4 linked regions of the Homo sapiens genome follow. The protein of the gene in region 1 interacts with the protein of each later gene in a biochemical or structural test. Each region holds a gene or a part of one and is shown in the gene's direction. Other genes may lie near its edges.

Evidence for each region. The genes of interacting proteins can lie anywhere in the genome.
Region 2: of the proteins of CDC25C (region 1) and CDS1, one has a biochemical effect on the other in vitro, tested with the Homo sapiens proteins (one study listed by BioGRID).
Region 3: of the proteins of CDC25C (region 1) and BRSK2, one has a biochemical effect on the other in vitro, tested with the Homo sapiens proteins (one study listed by BioGRID).
Region 4: the proteins of CDC25C (region 1) and MAPK1 form a complex in vitro, tested with the Homo sapiens proteins (one study listed by BioGRID).

What each region holds. Positions count from the first base shown.
Region 1 is NC_000005.10:138,318,305-138,321,804, reverse strand, and holds part of CDC25C (M-phase inducer phosphatase 3), read left to right. Parts: intron 1-2,430; coding exon 2,431-2,586; intron 2,587-3,500. UniProt on the Homo sapiens protein: Functions as a dosage-dependent inducer in mitotic control. Tyrosine protein phosphatase required for progression of the cell cycle. When phosphorylated, highly effective in activating G2 cells into prophase.
Region 2 is NC_000004.12:84,645,627-84,649,126, forward strand, and holds part of CDS1 (phosphatidate cytidylyltransferase 1), read left to right. Parts: intron 1-2,930; coding exon 2,931-3,060; 3' UTR 3,061-3,500. UniProt on the Homo sapiens protein: Catalyzes the conversion of phosphatidic acid (PA) to CDP-diacylglycerol (CDP-DAG), an essential intermediate in the synthesis of phosphatidylglycerol, cardiolipin and phosphatidylinositol.
Region 3 is NC_000011.10:1,396,434-1,399,933, forward strand, and holds part of BRSK2 (serine/threonine-protein kinase BRSK2), read left to right. Parts: intron 1-3,500. UniProt on the Homo sapiens protein: Serine/threonine-protein kinase that plays a key role in polarization of neurons and axonogenesis, cell cycle progress and insulin secretion. Phosphorylates CDK16, CDC25C, MAPT/TAU, PAK1 and WEE1.
Region 4 is NC_000022.11:21,759,646-21,763,145, reverse strand, and holds the end of MAPK1 (mitogen-activated protein kinase 1), read left to right. Parts: 3' UTR 1-3,489; downstream 3,490-3,500. UniProt on the Homo sapiens protein: Serine/threonine kinase which acts as an essential component of the MAP kinase signal transduction pathway. MAPK1/ERK2 and MAPK3/ERK1 are the 2 MAPKs which play an important role in the MAPK/ERK cascade.

The sequences.
Region 1 (3,500 bases):
ATGAAGATAAAGTTGATCATGGTTTTTTTTTTTTTTTTTTTTTTTTTTTTTTTTGAGACAGAGTCTTGCTCTGTCACCAGGCTGGAGTGCAGTGGTGCGATCTCAGCTCACTGCAACCTCTGCCTCCTGGGTTCAAGCAATTCCACTGCCTCAGCCTCCCCAGTAGCTGGGACTATAGGCGTGCACCACCACACCCAGCTAATTTTTTGTATTTTAGTAGAGACGGGGTTTCACCATGTTGGCCAGGATGCTCTCGATCTCCTGACCTCGTGATCCACCTGCCTCGGCCTCCCAAAGTGCTGGGATTACAGGCATGAGCCACCGCGCCTGGCCACTAAGTTGATCATGTTTTATTTAGGTTTTTGGTTTCTAGGATGGAGGGAAGACCTGGAGTATGTTCAATTATTGGATAGTCTTATATGTGATTTTTTTTAATTGCAGTAAAATGTACATAATATTTACAATTTTAACTATTTGTGAGTGTGCAGTCTAGTGACAGTAAGTATATTAATAATGTGAGACTATCACCAGAACTCATTTCCAGAATTTTTTCATTATTCAAAACAGAAGCTGTATACCCTTAAGTGATAACTCCCCATCCCTGTTTCTGCCCAGCCAATGATAACCTCTATTTTCTGTGTCAGTGAATTTGACTATTCTAGATACCTCATATGAGTAGAATAATATTATATTTTGTCCTTTCATGTGTGTGTGTGAGGTCTCACTCTGTCACCTCTGCTGGAGTACAGTGGCACAATCATAACTCACTGCAGCCTCAAACTCCCGGGCTCTGATTATTCTCCCACCTCAGCCTACCAAGTAGGTGGGACTGCAAGTGTGTGCCACTATGCCTGGCTACTTTTTTTTTTTTTTTTTTTTTTTTTTTTTTGAGACAGAGTCTCACTCTGTCACCCAGGCTGGAGTGCAGTGGTGCAATCTTGACTCACTGCAACCTTTATCTCCCAGGTTCAGGTGATTCTTATGCCTTAACCTCCCTAGTAGCTGGGATTACAGACGTGTGCTACCATGCCTGGTGAATTTTTTTGTATTTTTAGTAGAGACGGAGTTTCACCATGTTGGCCAGGCTGGTCTTAAACTCCTGGCCTCATGTGATCTGCCCACCTCAACCTAATTTTTTTGTATATTTTGTAGAATCAGGGTTTTGCCATGTTGCCCAGGCTGGTCTCAAACTCCTGGGTTCAAGAGATCCATCTGCTTCAGCCTCCCATAGTGCTGGGGTTACAGGTGTGAGCCACTGCGTCCAGCCTATATTTTCATTTAGCGTAATGTCTTCAAAGTTCATCTATGTCATAGCATGTATTAGAATTTCATTTCTTTTGTATGTATATATCATATTTTGTTTATCCATTCATCTGTTGATGGACATTTTGAGTTGTTTCCAACCTTTTGGCCATTGTGAGTAATGCCGTTATGAACATAGGTGTACAAAATCTGCTTGAGTCCTTGCTTTTATTTTATTTTGTGTATTTTTTTTTTCCAAGATGGAGTCTTTGCCCTGTCACCCAGGCTGGAGTGCAGTGGAACGATCACAGCTCACTGCAACTTCCACCTCCCTGGTTCAAGCAGTTCTCCTGCCTCAGCCTCCCAAGTAGCTGGGATTACAGGCACATGCTACCATGCCCGGCTAATTTTTGTATTTTTAGTAGAGATGGGGTTTCAACATGTTGGCCAGGCTGCTCTCGAACTCCTGACCTCGTGATCTGCTGGCCTCGGCCTCCCGAAGTACTGGGATTACAGGCGTGAGCTACTGCGCCCGGCCCCTGCTTTTAATTCTTTTGGGTATATATTCAGAAGTAGAATTGCTTGATTACATGATAATTCTACATTTAATTTTTTGAGGAACTGCCATGCTATTATCCATAGAATGCCTCTGCACCCTTTTACATTCCCACCAGCAATGCACAAACACTTGTTATTTCTTATAATGGCTATCCTAATGGGTATAAAGAAGTATCTCTTGCAATTTTCATATGCATTTCCATAATGATTACTTTGTTGAGCATCTTTTGATGTGCTTATGGGCCATTTGTATATCTTCTTTGGAGAAATGTCTATTCATGTCCCTTTTGATTGTTATTGTTGTTGTTACTGAGTTGTAGGAGTTCCTTATATATTCTGATATTAATCTCTCATCAAATATAAGACTTGCAAATGTTTTCTCCCATTTTGTGGGTTGCCTTTTCATTCCCTTAATGGTGTTCTTTGATGCACAAAAGTTTTCCATTTTGATGAAGACCAATTTATCTGTTTTTTTCTTTCGTTACCTGTGCTTTTGGTGGCATTATCCAAATCCAGTGTCATGAATTTTTTCCCTTATCTTTTCTTCTAAGAGTTTTATAGTTTTAGCTCTTACATTTAGAACTTTGATATATTTTGAATAGTTTTTAATGTTGTCAATATACTTGACAGGACAATGGAAACTTGGTGGACAGTGAAATGAAATATTTGGGCAGTCCCATTACTACTGTTCCAAAATTGGATAAAAATCCAAACCTAGGAGAAGACCAGGCAGAAGAGATTTCAGATGAATTAATGGAGTTTTCCCTGAAAGATCAAGAAGCAAAGGTAAAGTGTTCTGTGGTAGTATCTTTGTATTCTTCATATTCCTTCATTCTGTTAAAAGAAGAACTAGACAAATTAAACTTAGGAGAGTTTATTTGAGCAAAAAAATAACTAGTGAATCCAGCAACCCTCATAGCCAGAACATGTTCAGTAAAACTCCAGTTTGCCATGTGGTCAGGCAGTATTATGGACAGAAAATGGAAATGAAGTACAGAAAATAGAAGTGAGGTACAGAGACAGCCCAGTTGGTTGCAGCCTTGAGTTTGCCTTATTTGAACATGGTTTAAACAGTTGATTGCTTGTGGTTGACTGAAGCTCAGCTGCTGTGCTTTCCTGAGACTCAGCTTTTTGATACAAAAGTATACTTCTAAATTAGGCTTTCAGTTAGTTTAAGTACTAAGTTAGGTTGCAACTTGGTATATAAAGACTCAAGTACAGAGGCATCCCCAGGCCAAATTTAGTTTAATTAAGAATTCATTCTTCTTTTTTTTGTTGTTTGTTTTTTTTAAGACAGATTCTCGCTCTGTCGCCTAGGCTGGAGTGCAGTGGCGCCATCTTGGCTCACTGCGACCTCCTCTTCCCAGGTTCAAGCGATTCTCCTGCCTCAGCCTCTCGAGTAGCTGGGATTACAGGTGTGCACCACCACACCCGGGTAATTTTTAGTATTTTTAGTAGAGACAGGGTTTCACCATGTTGGCCAGGCTGGTCTTAAACTCCTGGCCTCAGGTGATCTACCCACCTCAGGCTTCCAAAGTGCTGGGATTGCAAGCGTGAGCCACCATGCCCAGCCAACAATTCATTCTTGAATAAACATTTTATGCCTGATATGTATGAGTCACTCTACTAAATGCTAGAGCTACAGAGATCAACAAGATGTGATAACCTATCTTTATTTATTTATTTATTTTTGAGATGGA
Region 2 (3,500 bases), on another chromosome or scaffold:
ATGATCATGAATACTAAGAGTTAAAAAGGGAGATAACGAAATGCATCCAGTCTACCAATTATTACTTGAGTGCCTGCCATATTGTAGAATGTTCTAGGGACAAATATGGCAGAGAACAAAACAAACCAAATCTCTGCCCCCATAGCTACTTGTTTGGAAGTTGAAGAAAGAATGATGAGAAAGAGACAATAAACAAATAAATATAGTTTGTTAGATGGTTGTAAGTGTCACACAGAAAAATAAAGCAGGCCGAGGGGATCATGCCTGTGTGTGTAGGGGCTGGCTGGTGGATGGGTGGATGAATATTGCCATTTTAGAAAGGGTGGTTTATTCTTGTTATTAAACCTTAATGTTTTGGATCTGCCTTGAAATACCAGTGTGAGTGTGAAGGCTTAACATCAACTGCATGTTAACTTTATTTTCTGTGGTCTCTACTGGGGGCCCAGAAGGCAGAATGCTTATTAATAGTACCTGAGCTGTAGAAAACATGGATTTCCTTCATAGTACTTGGAAGGAAATTCATATTTAGCAATCCCTAAATACACATTTTAAATATGTACCACAGTAGTGTGAGAATTTTTATATTAACTATTTTTGAGAGACAGTCCTGATAGCGAGTTTATCAATTTCATTAATCTTTTCAAAAATATCAACTCCAGGCTTTGTTAATTTTCTCTACTGTAAATTTTTTACCTCATTGATTTCTCCTCTCATCTTTCATTTCTCTGCCTTTTTTAAATGTTCAATATGCTGTTCTTTTTTTAATTCTGGAGATAAGCTTAGATTATTGATTTTTAGCCTTCTTATCTAATTTATCCATTGAAGACTATTAAGTATCACTTTATCCTCTTCCTGCAAGTTGTGATATTTGTATTTTCATTATTTACATGTTTTCTGATTTCCAGTATTATATCTTCTTTAACACATGGGTTATTTAGAAGCATATTCATTAGTTTTCAAACAAATGGAGATTTTTTCACTTTCCTCCCTTAATTCCACTGTGGTCGGAAAACATACTCTATGATTTGAGTATTTTATAATTTTTGAGATCTATTCTGTGGTACAGCATGTTATCTATTCTAGTACATGCTCCATGGGCAAAGGTGTATTCTGTAGTTTTGGGTTGTAGTTTTGTCTGTGTCAGTTAGGTGAGGTTTAATTAAATCTTCTGTACTGATTTTTGTTTATTTGTTTTTGTGTTTGTTTGGTCCGCTTGTTCTATCAGTTACTAAGAGAGCTTTGTTAAAGTCTCTCATTGTGATTGTAAATGTATTTTTTTATTTGTAGTTCTACCAATTTTTGGTTTATATATTTTGAGGTTGTATTAGGTATGTACAAATTTAGGATTGTCATATCTCTCCATTGAATTGATCCTTTTGTCATTATATAATGTCTGTCTTTACTGCTTGCCTTAAAGCGTACTGTGTTGAATATTAAAATAGCAATATCAGCTTTCTTTTGGTCAGTGTTTGCATGTTATTTCTTTGTCTCTCCTTTTATTTTTAACATTCCCTTTTCCTTATATTTAATGTGTTTCTTTTTTCTAGTAAGCATATAGCTGATTTTTTTCCCTGTTTTATTTATAAGACAGTTGATAATCTTTATCCTTTTAATGGGACTATTTAACTTATTTGCATATTATTTATTGATCTATTTGGGTATTAGTAATTAGTGGTTAAATCCTTAAAACTTTGTTTTCAGAATATGGCAGCTTTTTAGGGCATTAACTCATATGCTTTCTTTAAAAAAAAAATGCTGTCCTCTCAGTAGGGAGGTGTCATGCTGAGCCATGTTGTCCACCATTTGAAAGCAGCTATTTAGACTGTTAGAAGACACTGAGAGTGCCAGGATGCAGCTAGCTGGGAGCACCTGCTGACACAATTTTGCATTTAGCTGAACTTGCTAAAGCAGCCTTCCTTTTCTCTGTTGGTCTCTACTTGGGGTTTATGCTGTGAAGTTGCTGACTCTTTTAAAGAAATGAAATAAGGCGAACAGTGTCCTGACCTGAGTGTGAAAGTTTTTTGGCAGATGAGTTGAGCCACGTGCATGAAGATGACCCTTGGTGGGATGGCTCATCTGGGCTCTTGTGCAATTTGTTAAGTCAAAGATTTTCAGAGTAAATAGTTCCTCTGCTCATCCTCATTGTGGTAACACTAAATAGCAAACATTTCTTTGTTGCTGGGATTTCTACTTTCTATAATTCAATGTGAACAATCTTTACTGTAAGGCATACATTATTTACCCACATAAATGTCTTTCTTAGAATTCTATGCCATCTCTATACATGACTTGTATGTTGCTTTTTCCCATTGGATTTTAAAGCAGATCTGCTTTTATTTTGTTTTTTATATTGGAGTTCACCTAGGACTGTCTTTGAACAAAGTCCACGGCACCTGTATCACTGGTAAGGGGCTTCAGTGCTAGGCTCAGGACTTTTGTGTTCTGACTCTGAATATTCATAACTCCCTGGAGATATTTTTCAACAAAATACCTTTCATCATCTGAAGTTTCTTGGAAGTTAAAAATTTCAATTATATTTTCATGCCCTCTTTTTGGTTTGTCCTATGTTCACCAGGCTCCTTTCCTTACAGAATAGTTTTTGTGTCTCATTCAATCTCAAGATTTGCCATTTATCCCCACCTTTAACTTTGGTTGCCCTTTCAAGAGCTTTTGTAGAACTTAGATCTGCACCCCTTCAATTGACTTACATTGCTCTTGTGTTTTGTGTTTGTGCATTCTTTCTCCCTCTCTGCTGTAACCCTTGACACTAACATTGCACATTAAAGTGAGCTATTATCAAGAGCTATTTTAATTCTGTAAAGATTCCTACTCTACACTTAAAGGAATGGTTTGTTTTAAATTGGAGGTATGTGCTTCACTTATCCCTATTAAAATAACACGAACTTGTCTTCTTTGCCTTTTATCATTAGGGGCCCAAATCCCAGCAAAGTGCTACAGCAGTTGTTGGTGCTTCAACCTGAACAGCAGTTAAATATATATAAAACCCTGAAGACTCATCTCATTGAGAAAGGAATCCTACAACCCACCTTGAAGGTATAACTGGATCCAGAGAGGGAAGGACTGACAAGAAGGAATTATTCAGAAAAACACTGACAGATGTTTTATAAATTGTACAGAAAAATAGTTAAAAATGCAATAGGTTGAAGTTTTGGAGATATGTTTCTCTCTGAAATTACTGTGAATATTTAACAAACACTTACTTGATCTATGTTATGAAATAAGTAGCAAATTGCCAGCAAAATGTCTTGTACCTTTTCTAAAGTGTATTTTCTGATGTGAACTTCCTTCCCCTTACTTGCTAGGTTTCATAATTTAAAAGACTGGTATTTAAAAGAGTCAAACACTATAAAATGAGTAAGTTGACGATGTTTTAAGATTGCACCTGGCAGTGTGCCTTTTTGCACAAATATTTACTTTTGCACTTGGAGCTGCTTTTAATTTTAGCAAAATGTTTTATGCAAGGCACAATAGGAAGTCAG
Region 3 (3,500 bases), on another chromosome or scaffold:
CCCGGGCCCTCTCATCATGGCCTCACCCTGCTCCGGCGCTCTGGGTGCTTTGAAGCAGACAGGAGACCCCCTCCAGGCTGGCCCGAGGGCAGGTCAGACCCCAGTCCCTGGGAACAGCCTGAGTGGGCTGTGCCTCCCCGTCGGCCACTGGCGCTCAGGAGGAGCCGTCGGGAAGGCCCCTTTGCCATCACCTGGTGGCGCTTGCTTGAGGGCTTCTGTGCCTTCCAGTCCTCACTGGGCACAGACTAGCTTCTTTGGGCACCTGGGGAGGGTCAGGCTGTCTCTGAAGTCAGCAGCCCTGCTGGGCAGCCGGCACCAGGAGAGGAGGCGGGCTGGTCCCCGTGACTGCCGGCCGCCGGCATCCACCTATGTGGGGCTGTGCCTAGATGGTGGCACTGTGGGGCATCACTGTGCAGTTCTGGGCCCTGCCCTCAGCTCTGGACAGCCCACCTGGACCCTGGCCCCTCGGAAGTGGAAGGACTGGGACCTCAGGGCCCCTGAGTGTAGAATGGGGTTTCCCTGAAGCTTGTGCGAGGTTCCAATGGCTGGAAACACCGTACCGCGCAGGAGGACGGCAGACCAGCATCTGTCAGGCCCCTTGGGGCTCACATGGCTGGTCCTCTGTGCTGCCCTGTGCTCTGCAGGAAGTTAACGGCACCCTGCCACCTCCTCTGTGCAGGGCAGCCCCGCTTTCACCTGTAGGGCTGGTGCCTGTGTCAGGCCCAAGCCCCAGGTCCTAGCCTAGGCTGACCAAGCGGCCTGCAGATCTCCCTGAGGCCTCACCCCAGGGATGTCCGCCGGGCCAGGCTGCCCTGAGCCAGCTGCCTGGGGCTCTGGACAAGATGGAGGCTGGGCTGGGGCAGAGGCTGCAGGGACAAAGCACGGATTGTGCCAAGCCGGCTGCCTTTCAGGGCCCGGCCTGCCAGGTCCAGGCCTTGTTCTACCGCCTCTGAGGGGCCAGTGTTCTGGGCCCAGCAGCTGGGAGCCAGGCCCCACCCACAGAGCAGTGCTCCCGAAAGTCCTGCTGTTAAAGAGAAACTCCTCGTTTTCCTGGACGCCTCCAGCTTCCCAGGCTCGTTCTGCCTTCAGTCCCGGGGCCCACGGAGGCCGTGGCTGCCCTACGCTGCTTTGCCCCAGGGGCCTGGGCTGCAGGCTGGGCCTGGCTTCCTCCCCGAACCCTGGAGAGTGACAGCACCACCCCCAGTGGATGGCAAGGTCCCATCGGTTGGCATGTGTCTCTCTGGGCACCATGCTCCTCGTTGGGTGCCACGTCCTTGGGCTGAGCTTGGGTCCTGTCTGCCCTGGGGGTACCATCCTATGAGGACAGAGCTGCCTTTCCTGGGTGGCCATGGCAGCCTCATGGCACTGGCTGAGGGGAATGGACACTTCTGGGATGGAGCTGGGCTGGGGTGGGGCTGGGTAGGGCCAGTGGGAGTTCTGGGCACCTTGGCCTGAGGGGGATGGGGGTGCCCAGGGCATTCACGCCATCACTGCCCACTTGGCTTAAGCTGGAGCCCAGGGCCCTGGAGGGCAGGCTGGCCTTCCCGGCCCCGGGCAGAGGTGGGAGGGCGCCTGGACGGCTGCCTGCATGATCCCCGTGATACAGCGGGGATGGCTGCAAGTCGGGCTGAGTCCAGCTGTGGGTGGTTTGCGGGGGCACAGGGAGCCTGCCTGGCCAGGAATGTCGCCTCTGCGGGTGTCTTGGCCTGGGAGCCCCCGGGGAACCCTTTGTATGGGAGAAGGGGTCAGGATAGGGGCTGGGGGGCAGTGCCTAGTGGCCCTCCATGCTGAGGGAAAGCCCCTCTTCACAGCTAGCATCGGGCCTCGTGTCCTCGGCACCCTGAATCAGCTGCAGGGCTAGCTGCTGCCTGAGCTGCCTGGTTGGGGCTGGCCTGGGCCCCTGATTGGCTGCTTCCCTGGGCGGGGGTGACGTTGCTGCCCTGGGTCCGAGAGTTATCTTGTGCGGACAGAGGTAATAGGTGTGGTACCCGCCCCGGGAAGGGTGGTGGCCAGGGTGGCCATGTCAGGCGCCTTGGCCCTGCCCCCTGGGGATACAGGGGGTGGAGAGGCAGCCCCAAAGCTGGGTTCTCAGAGACCTGGGGTGGCCAGATGGGGGCTCATTCAGCTGCCCCCTGTGCAGCCCCTTGGTGCCATTAACTTTCTGCAGAGCGCAGGGCAGCACAGAGGGCCAGCCAGGCCAGGGGGCCAGAGGTTCCCCTCCCACACAAGCTCCGAGGTGTCCAGACAGGAGGCGGTGGCCCCAGTCCGCATAGGCCTTTCCCCAGGGCAGCCCTTTCCCCAGGGTTAGGCTGCAGGCCCTGCCGGTGTGGCTTCAGGAGTCCTGGTCCCCGCACTCAAGCTTCCCTCCTGCTCATCTGTGATGGGGCCTGGGTGTACCCAGGTCCTTGGTAGGCGCCAGGAGATGTGTGGGGCCCCCTGGAGCCTGGAGCCCCCCCAGCCCCTCCGCTTATCTTTGGTGTCTGGGGCGGAGACTGGCCCTTGGCACCCGCGGCCGTCCCTGGCTTTCGTCCTGCGCCGTCCTGGGTCTTTGGGTCCCTCTGCCAGCCCCGTGGTGACTTCTTGCACACAGGGTTTGCAGGGGGGCTGCGGAATGACTCCGTCCCTTCCACAGCACACGGGCACCTCCAGCCAGGAAGGAGCTGGGCAGGCAGCCCCGCCCCAGGCCAGAGCCACAGAGCCGTTGTGACTGGGGGTCTCTGGCCAGGACGTTCCTGTGCTGTCTGTTGTGGGCAGGCCCCCCAGGGCAGGGCCACCTCCAGGGTACTTGGTTCCAGACGCTGGCTGAGTGGTCACTTGTGTCCACACCGCAGTTTCCCTATCTGTGAAGTGGCTTGGATAGGATGGTGGGGTGGTGCCAGGGGGTTGCTCTTGCTGGGACTGAGCCCAGGGCCTGGCCCTGCCACTGGGGCCAGCGTCAGCCTCAGGACAGCCGAGGAGGGGAGATGGCTTGTGGGCCAGGATGCCCGAGGGTGGGGAGAAGCAGCTCAGATGGCGTCACTGTGTTGCCTTCCCCCAGCCGATGGGATTTTTGTGGAGCTCTCTCTGCTGGGGACAATGAGAGGGGAGCCGTGAGCCGTGATAGGGATTGTGGCAAGGCCGGGCTGGTCAGCTGGGGATGCCAGGGCCGCACAGTCCCTCGGGGCTCAAACTGGCAGCTGTCCCCCCAGGGCTCTGGGCTGGTGAGGAGCTTGTCCTGCCCGTCCCTCTGCTGCCACAGTAACCCCGGACACATCCCATGTCATCTGCTGTGGCCCTGCCTTCTGCCGGGTGGACATGGGGGATTTGGGGTACAGGGAAGCAGTGAGTTCTGGGCCGACCAAATTCCCCGGTGCCGTCGGGCCCAGCCTCCTTCTTCCTTGGCACCCTGGGGTGTGTCGTGGCTGAACCCCAGCTCTGTGGTTCCCGAGGCTTTTCTGGGATGGAGGCCTCGCTCCGGGTCCTGGTGTTTTCACATAGCAGAGGAGAGTGCCCCAAGCCTG
Region 4 (3,500 bases), on another chromosome or scaffold:
AGCCTCCAGGAGCTCATGACGTGAAGCACTGTTCTGTCCTCAAGTACTCAAATATTTCTGATACTGCTGAGTCAGACTGTCAGAAAAAGCTAGCACTAACTCGTGTTTGGAGCTCTATCCATATTTTACTGATCTCTTTAAGTATTTGTTCCTGCCACTGTGTACTGTGGAGTTGACTCGGTGTTCTGTCCCAGTGCGGTGCCTCCTCTTGACTTCCCCACTGCTCTCTGTGGTGAGAAATTTGCCTTGTTCAATAATTACTGTACCCTCGCATGACTGTTACAGCTTTCTGTGCAGAGATGACTGTCCAAGTGCCACATGCCTACGATTGAAATGAAAACTCTATTGTTACCTCTGAGTTGTGTTCCACGGAAAATGCTATCCAGCAGATCATTTAGGAAAAATAATTCTATTTTTAGCTTTTCATTTCTCAGCTGTCCTTTTTTCTTGTTTGATTTTTGACAGCAATGGAGAATGGGTTATATAAAGACTGCCTGCTAATATGAACAGAAATGCATTTGTAATTCATGAAAATAAATGTACATCTTCTATCTTCACATTCATGTTAAGATTCAGTGTTGCTTTCCTCTGGATCAGCGTGTCTGAATGGACAGTCAGGTTCAGGTTGTGCTGAACACAGAAATGCTCACAGGCCTCACTTTGCCGCCCAGGCACTGGCCCAGCACTTGGATTTACATAAGATGAGTTAGAAAGGTACTTCTGTAGGGTCCTTTTTACCTCTGCTCGGCAGAGAATCGATGCTGTCATGTTCCTTTATTCACAATCTTAGGTCTCAAATATTCTGTCAAACCCTAACAAAGAAGCCCCGACATCTCAGGTTGGATTCCCTGGTTCTCTCTAAAGAGGGCCTGCCCTTGTGCCCCAGAGGTGCTGCTGGGCACAGCCAAGAGTTGGGAAGGGCCGCCCCACAGTACGCAGTCCTCACCACCCAGCCCAGGGTGCTCACGCTCACCACTCCTGTGGCTGAGGAAGGATAGCTGGCTCATCCTCGGAAAACAGACCCACATCTCTATTCTTGCCCTGAAATACGCGCTTTTCACTTGCGTGCTCAGAGCTGCCGTCTGAAGGTCCACACAGCATTGACGGGACACAGAAATGTGACTGTTACCGGATAACACTGATTAGTCAGTTTTCATTTATAAAAAAGCATTGACAGTTTTATTACTCTTGTTTCTTTTTAAATGGAAAGTTACTATTATAAGGTTAATTTGGAGTCCTCTTCTAAATAGAAAACCATATCCTTGGCTACTAACATCTGGAGACTGTGAGCTCCTTCCCATTCCCCTTCCTGGTACTGTGGAGTCAGATTGGCATGAAACCACTAACTTCATTCTAGAATCATTGTAGCCATAAGTTGTGTGCTTTTTATTAATCATGCCAAACATAATGTAACTGGGCAGAGAATGGTCCTAACCAAGGTACCTATGAAAAGCGCTAGCTATCATGTGTAGTAGATGCATCATTTTGGCTCTTCTTACATTTGTAAAAATGTACAGATTAGGTCATCTTAATTCATATTAGTGACACGGAACAGCACCTCCACTATTTGTATGTTCAAATAAGCTTTCAGACTAATAGCTTTTTTGGTGTCTAAAATGTAAGCAAAAAATTCCTGCTGAAACATTCCAGTCCTTTCATTTAGTATAAAAGAAATACTGAACAAGCCAGTGGGATGGAATTGAAAGAACTAATCATGAGGACTCTGTCCTGACACAGGTCCTCAAAGCTAGCAGAGATACGCAGACATTGTGGCATCTGGGTAGAAGAATACTGTATTGTGTGTGCAGTGCACAGTGTGTGGTGTGTGCACACTCATTCCTTCTGCTCTTGGGCACAGGCAGTGGGTGTAGAGGTAACCAGTAGCTTTGAGAAGCTACATGTAGCTCACCAGTGGTTTTCTCTAAGGAATCACAAAAGTAAACTACCCAACCACATGCCACGTAATATTTCAGCCATTCAGAGGAAACTGTTTTCTCTTTATTTGCTTATATGTTAATATGGTTTTTAAATTGGTAACTTTTATATAGTATGGTAACAGTATGTTAATACACACATACATACGCACACATGCTTTGGGTCCTTCCATAATACTTTTATATTTGTAAATCAATGTTTTGGAGCAATCCCAAGTTTAAGGGAAATATTTTTGTAAATGTAATGGTTTTGAAAATCTGAGCAATCCTTTTGCTTATACATTTTTAAAGCATTTGTGCTTTAAAATTGTTATGCTGGTGTTTGAAACATGATACTCCTGTGGTGCAGATGAGAAGCTATAACAGTGAATATGTGGTTTCTCTTACGTCATCCACCTTGACATGATGGGTCAGAAACAAATGGAAATCCAGAGCAAGTCCTCCAGGGTTGCACCAGGTTTACCTAAAGCTTGTTGCCTTTTCTTGTGCTGTTTATGCGTGTAGAGCACTCAAGAAAGTTCTGAAACTGCTTTGTATCTGCTTTGTACTGTTGGTGCCTTCTTGGTATTGTACCCCAAAATTCTGCATAGATTATTTAGTATAATGGTAAGTTAAAAAATGTTAAAGGAAGATTTTATTAAGAATCTGAATGTTTATTCATTATATTGTTACAATTTAACATTAACATTTATTTGTGGTATTTGTGATTTGGTTAATCTGTATAAAAATTGTAAGTAGAAAGGTTTATATTTCATCTTAATTCTTTTGATGTTGTAAACGTACTTTTTAAAAGATGGATTATTTGAATGTTTATGGCACCTGACTTGTAAAAAAAAAAAACTACAAAAAAATCCTTAGAATCATTAAATTGTGTCCCTGTATTACCAAAATAACACAGCACCGTGCATGTATAGTTTAATTGCAGTTTCATCTGTGAAAACGTGAAATTGTCTAGTCCTTCGTTATGTTCCCCAGATGTCTTCCAGATTTGCTCTGCATGTGGTAACTTGTGTTAGGGCTGTGAGCTGTTCCTCGAGTTGAATGGGGATGTCAGTGCTCCTAGGGTTCTCCAGGTGGTTCTTCAGACCTTCACCTGTGGGGGGGGGGGTAGGCGGTGCCCACGCCCATCTCCTCATCCTCCTGAACTTCTGCAACCCCACTGCTGGGCAGACATCCTGGGCAACCCCTTTTTTCAGAGCAAGAAGTCATAAAGATAGGATTTCTTGGACATTTGGTTCTTATCAATATTGGGCATTATGTAATGACTTATTTACAAAACAAAGATACTGGAAAATGTTTTGGATGTGGTGTTATGGAAAGAGCACAGGCCTTGGACCCATCCAGCTGGGTTCAGAACTACCCCCTGCTTATAACTGCGGCTGGCTGTGGGCCAGTCATTCTGCGTCTCTGCTTTCTTCCTCTGCTTCAGACTGTCAGCTGTAAAGTGGAAGCAATATTACTTGCCTTGTATATGGTAAAGATTATAAAAATACATTTCAACTGTTCAGCATAGTACTTCAAAGCAAGTACTCAGTAAATAGCAAGTCTTTTTAAATGCTGCTTTAT